Regions from separate parts of the Homo sapiens genome. Here region 1 is linked to region 2. The links come from fine-mapping of genetic effects on gene expression. A gene starts in region 2. The other region holds a variant in brackets. All regions are shown on one strand. Distances are between the middles of the regions.

Region 1 (2,901 bases), 40 kb before region 2:
CACTTTCTTTTTTAAGGAACTTACTTATCTGGAGTAATCTCTACTAAAAAAGAGACTTAGGGCCAGTCAGAGCATCCCCAACACGCCATCTGTGCCCCTTGCAAGTGTCCTATGCACAGAAATGGAGGTGGCCATGCTAAGACTACTCTTGGGGACAGCGAGAAGGGTGCTCCCTGACAACTCCAAGGACCATCCCCTCTCAAGGAGGAAGAGAGGAAAGAGCTATACCAGCAACAAAGCAGAGACAAGACTACCGAGGACCTTGGGTGCTGTGGGGCTGGGGCTTTGGAAGAAAACAGTGTTCTAAGGAATGAAGGCCAAAAAAGCACTAATGGTTGGTGGGGAAGGCGTGTCACAGCCTTGGGGGTGGATGCAACCCCAGGAAACTGAGGTTCAGAAGACAGTGCCCCTCCAAAACTCCTGAAGTCATGAGTCAGGCCCAGGATGCCCTGCTCCTAGCCACGGAGGGGTTTTGAGGCTTCCGGGGCTGAGTAACTCCCTTCTTACCAAGAAGCTCGGAGAGGAGCCCCAAGGCTGCCCCACCCCTCTCCCCACCTACTTCAGCCACATCTGGGGAAATCACAAAAAGGTCCCTCCTTTCCTAAATGAGGAAATAGCATGAGGAGCCTGGGACATTTCCGGGGTGGGGGGTCAGAGGGACACTCACCCGCATGGCCTGGCCTGGAGCAGCCCAGAGCAAGGAGACTCCGCTCTGATGCTGCTCTGGCTCCGTTAGCAGCTCAAAATAGCACAGGCTGTGGCCCCGCCCAGTTCCCGCCCTCTCCCCGGCCCCTCCCGTCCCGAGCTGCCCAGCCCTAGTTGGAGCCAGCAGCCCGGAGGACTTCGGGTATCAGGTATGCCAGGAGGGAGAGGGTGATACAGCAGTGTGTGTGGAAGGGAAGGAGAAGGCTCTTAGGGTAAAGCCATTGGGGTGGGGGGCAGGCAGTGTTAGGGGGTTAGGGCAAGGACAGGGAGGGTGAGACTTGCCTATGGACACACACCCCAGCTCCGGGACAGCTGGGCTGATATGGCTCCTAAAAATAGCAGAGGAATTTGAGACCTGCAGCCCCCGGCCCCACAGGCCAAGCTTGAGACAAGCACATGCGCACTCATGTGCATGTACACGTATACACACACACACACACACACCAGCATGCACGAACATTCAATCAACACAGTGTTCTTGAGAACACCCAAATCATAGGCCTACCCTAGCCATCTAATTACTGCGGCAGAGGCCAAGACAGCCACTAACGTCACATCCAAGACAGCACACGGGGCCCACTGCACACTGTGCCCAAACAGCAGCCGCAAAGCAGTCCTGTAAGGTCTGGCAGGAGCAGAGACCCACACGGGCAGGCCCACTTACTGCCCCACTGCCATCAGCACACAGGGGACATGCAGAGAATCAATTACACTCTCTTTGTTTACATCCCTCTCCCCTCCACAGACGCCAGGGACTGCACAGGCAGAGAGGAGGGTGGGGTGGGCCTCAGCCCTGCAGACAGAGGAAGTCATGGGTGTCTAGCCAATGAGTGATGGCTGCCTGTGAAAAGCCAGTGTTTCTTGTGAAGAGAAATCCTGGCCTGGCTCTCCAGTTAGCACCATGGGATGCCTAGACCAGGACTAGGGACCCGCTGAGACGCTGAAATGGGAGCTGGAGAACAGAATGTCAAGGGGCCAAAAGACAGGGAGAGCAAGTCTCAGAAGCCGTCAGCTCTGCAGAAAAAAGGAAACAGTCATTGCCTCCCTCTTCCTCTTTAGGAAAAAAA[A/G]AAAATGGGGTGGGGGTGGTGCTAGGAAGCCCTGATACAGAACCGCCTCCTAACCAGTCTGGCATACACCCCATGCTTCTTGCCCCTGGCCAGCTCTAAGGGCCATTGGTTCTATACATTGTCTGACTTTCTCCATGAAAAGATTGGTAAGCACTGCCAGAGAGGATGGAAACCCAGCCCTGCCTCCTACCTGCCATGCGCTGTCCAAGTCTCACTGTCATATAGTCACATACACAGACTCTTAGGACACGGCGCTTGTGTCCTGCTCTCTAGGGAGTGGGATGTCCCCCCAGGGGAAGCATCTGGCCCTTCTGAAGCACGTGCAGTGTCACAGGTCTTCACATCTTCAGTGGCTACTTAGAACAATGGTGCCAGCCTCAGCTGCTCACTGAAATCCACTGGGGAACTTGAAAAAAATACTGATGCCTGGAGCCCACCCTTTCCCTCTCAGTTTCTGACATAATTGGTCTGGGAGCAGGGGCCTGGGCACTGGGATTTTTTTGTTTTTGTTTTTTTTTGAGACGGAGTCTCGCTCTGTCGCCCAGGCTGGAGTGCAGTGGCGTGATCTCGGCTCACTGCAAGCTCCGCCTCCCGGGTTCACGCCATTCTCCTGCCTCAGCCTCCCGAGTAGCTGGGACTACAGGCGCCTGCCACCATGCCCGGCTAATTTTTTGTATTTTTAGTAGAGACGGGGTTTCACCGTGGTCTCAATCTCCTGACCTCGTGATCCGCCCGCCTTGGCCTCCCAGAGTGCTGGAATTACAGGCGTGAGCCACTGCGCCTGGCTGGACACTGGGATTTTTTATTGATAAAAGCTCCCCAGGTGATTCTCACATGCAGCCAAGGCTGAGAACTGCAAGACTCTAAGGCCAGCATAAGGCCTAGCACAGAAATGTCCATTTGTTAAATGAATGAGTGAATGAATGAATGATTTAGCTGTGTGAACACAGGCAGGTGACTTAAATTTCCCTTATCTGTAAAATGAGGATTACACCTTTACTGACTCTTACCCAACCAGTATGAGACTGGTACATAATGTATGTGAAAGGGCTTTGGTTCTCCAAGTTCTCAGGCCAGCAGCGTGGGCATCCCCTGGGGACTTGTTGGAAATGCAAATTCCAGGAACCCA
Region 2 (2,901 bases):
TCAGGCAAAATGAATACCCGCTCAAAAACAAACTGGCTGTCTTCCTCCCCATCTCCCCCACCCCCCACCTCTAGCTCATTCTGGCCGCAACCTTTCCAACTAATCAGCAAGACACATGTGCCTTGCAGTAGGGCAACTCCCCCATCTCCACCCCCAAAACAAAGCCCCAATGCCTGGCCTGTCCCTGCGGGCCTTATCGCACCCAGGAACATGACCCACACTCCTGGCCGGGTTTGGGACCAAGGAGCGCACCCCCACTAACAAGGGGCAGGGTGAGGGGGCAGCCACCCCTACCACCTCCCCTTCCCATTGGCGAAACAACTGGCATGACAGGTTAGCAGGGCGGGGCGTCGGGGCGGTCTCTCCAGAGGCCTGGGGCAGCTTGTCCGACCTTCCCACACGCACCCCACCCCTCTGCAGGGAAAGGTGAGGTGAGCATTCAGTCTCAGGGCACAGCCTGCACTCCCTAATCCCCAAAGCCTGCCACCATTCACCCTCTCATCTTCTGTCCCAAGAGGAGGGGGCCCAGGGAAGCGGGGTCTCCATTGTTTTGCCAGCTGTCTAGCAGCTGCTCCTTTGAGAGGAGCCCGCAGTCTGCCCGGCAGTGAAAGAGTGAAGGCCGCTGGGAGGGATAAAAGGGTCGGTAGAGGTGCTCCCCTTCCCCGCTGCCTTCCTCAGCGCCCCGCTCTCTCGCTCGCTCCATCGTGGGGCCTGGACGGGGGCAGGAGAAGTCCCCCCACCCTCGAGGCTGCAGCCCCCACCCCGCAGCTCCGGGCCACCTGGGCGCCTCCAAGCCCCAAATCCCCCCACACTGAAGGCCACCCTGTCCTGCCTCCCTGCGCCCCCCAGGTTGGCTGGAAGGGCCGGTGGTTCCCCCTTCCCCGCCGCTCCCGATCGGCCCCCACCCCCGGGCGTCGAGCTCCACGGCGCCGCCAGGGACGGGAGCCGGGAGTCCGGGCCGCTGCTTCCAGGGGACGGGGGAGGAGGAGGAGGAGCCGGCGGGCCCCGCCGCCCGCCCGCCCTCCCTCCCGGCCGGAGCCCGCCCCGCCGCCCCACCAAGCCGGGCCCGCCACCGAGCGGCCGCCGCCGCCGACCGGCACTCACCGGCCACCGGAGCCCGCCCGGCAGGCAGCAGAAGCGGAGACGCGGCATCCAGCAGCCTCGGCCCGGTCAGGGATGGAGCAGAGCGCAGCGCGGCGCAGCTCAGCGCCGCCCCCAGCGACCGCGCAGGCCGAGCCGAAAGGGAGCTCCCTGCTGGCGGCTGTGGGGATAAACGCCCGGCCTGCCTGGCAGCGCCAGTGCGCGCCGCCAGACGTGGGCCAGGCGGGCCGGGCGCTGCCCTGGCAGCCTCCGTCCGCTGTGGACTCCGAAGCCCCTCTCGCTGTGTCTGAGAGAGGCCCTGCCTGGAGTTTCTGTCTGCACTGGGCACTGGAGGCTGTCCGAAAAGGGTCCGAAAGGGGCTGAGTGGCACTGCCTAGGACAGGCACCAGGGTCATGATGAACGTATAGAAGAGGGGCTGTCCAAGGCAGGCACCGAACTCTGCAGGCTGTGTTCAAGGTAGTGCTGTCTAAAGGAAGCAATTAAGTCTTACTGGCCGCCTCCTCCCAAGGTGGCTCTGCAGAGGCACACACAGGGCCCTGCTGGATGGTGCCCCAGGCTCAGTCCAGACCAGGTACTGCCTGCCATGTCCGAGATGGCACTGCCAGAATGCACTCCCCAAGGTAAAAACAGACTCCCAATAGCTTGGTCTGATACAGCCCTGCCTCAAAATGGAGTGGATCAAGAGGCGTACCAGGGCCCGGGAGCCATGGCTGTAAGTGCCACTCACTCCCTAAAGGAGTTCACCAATGCCAAGATTAACACTTTCAGAAGCTCTTTGGAATGCAGTCTGTCCCTGGGTCCACTGTGTGCTGTAAATATCAAGTGAGCTGCTGTACCCACCAAGAAGACAGTTTATACTTCCTGGGAGAGGCCAAGGGACATCCAGATACCAGGCCTCCAAGATAGGTGCTATGTCTAGAGTTTGGAGAAAGAAAGAAATGGGGACACTTCCCTGGGCAGTGTCCATGCTGGAGTGGGGTGTGCCAGAATGTGGAAGAAACTGAGTGGGGTGGTGCAGGAAGAAGGGTGTAGCAGACAAATGCTGCTACCTCCCTAGACAGCCCAAACAGGAACTTCTCCAGGCAAGGGCAGCCCAACCTGACAGACCAGGGAAGGCTGGAGCAAGGAGGCTCAGAAAGCAGAGAGTTGAGTAAGAGTTAGGGAGTTCCTGAGGAATAGACCCAGGCGGGATACACATTTTGGAATAACATGCAACTCAAATTCAATTTAACAAACTGCCTGCTAAGTGCCAAGTGCAGCCCCAGGCACTTGGGGTGACACAGAAGGAGATCAGACATGGCATATCTCCAGGGAAATCACATGGGGAACAGGTAGACCTGAGCTGTGACAGTAGTAGGGTTCACCATGCTGGCATTACTTGGATGATGAGATAGGTGCTATGATGGGAGGCTTATTTGGCTTGAGGAGTGAGAAGAGCAGCTTCAAAAACATGACATTTGAGGCCAGGCATGGTGGCTTATGCCTGTAATCCCAGCACTTTGGGAGGCTGAGGTGGGCAGATCACTTGAGGCCAGCGTTCAAGACCAGCCTGGCCAACATGGCGAAACCCCATCACTACTACAAATACAAAAAATTAACCAGGCGTGGTAGTGCATGTCTATAATCCCAGCTACTTGGGAGGCTGAGGCAGGAGAATCTCTTGAACCTGGGGAGCAGAGGTTGCAGTGAGCGGAGATTACACCACTGTACTTCAGCCTGGGCGACAGAGCAAGACTCTGTCTCCAAAAAAGAAAAAAAAAAAACCCCAAAAACATGACATTTGAGCGGAACCTTGCAGG

The links.
Region 1: its variant is fine-mapped to the expression of MYO18A in whole blood (TOPMed, PIP above 0.99).

The regions. Positions count from the first base shown.
Region 1 is chr17:29,139,673-29,142,573 of GRCh38, forward strand. All of the region lies in intron 2 of MYO18A (myosin XVIIIA), which reads right to left. LOC124903967 (a long non-coding RNA gene) reads left to right here and starts at 802. Exons shown (of 3, transcript XR_007065693.1): 1 at 802-854. RefSeq lists enhancers at 1-14, 957-1,046, 1,197-1,246 and a silencer at 447-496. The variant A/G (reference allele first, on the strand shown) is at 1,773.
Region 2 is chr17:29,179,209-29,182,109 of GRCh38, forward strand. It overlaps MYO18A (myosin XVIIIA), which reads right to left and starts at 1,190. Exons shown (of 42, transcript NM_078471.4): 1 at 1,105-1,190. RefSeq lists silencers at 864-913, 1,034-1,083, 1,049-1,269.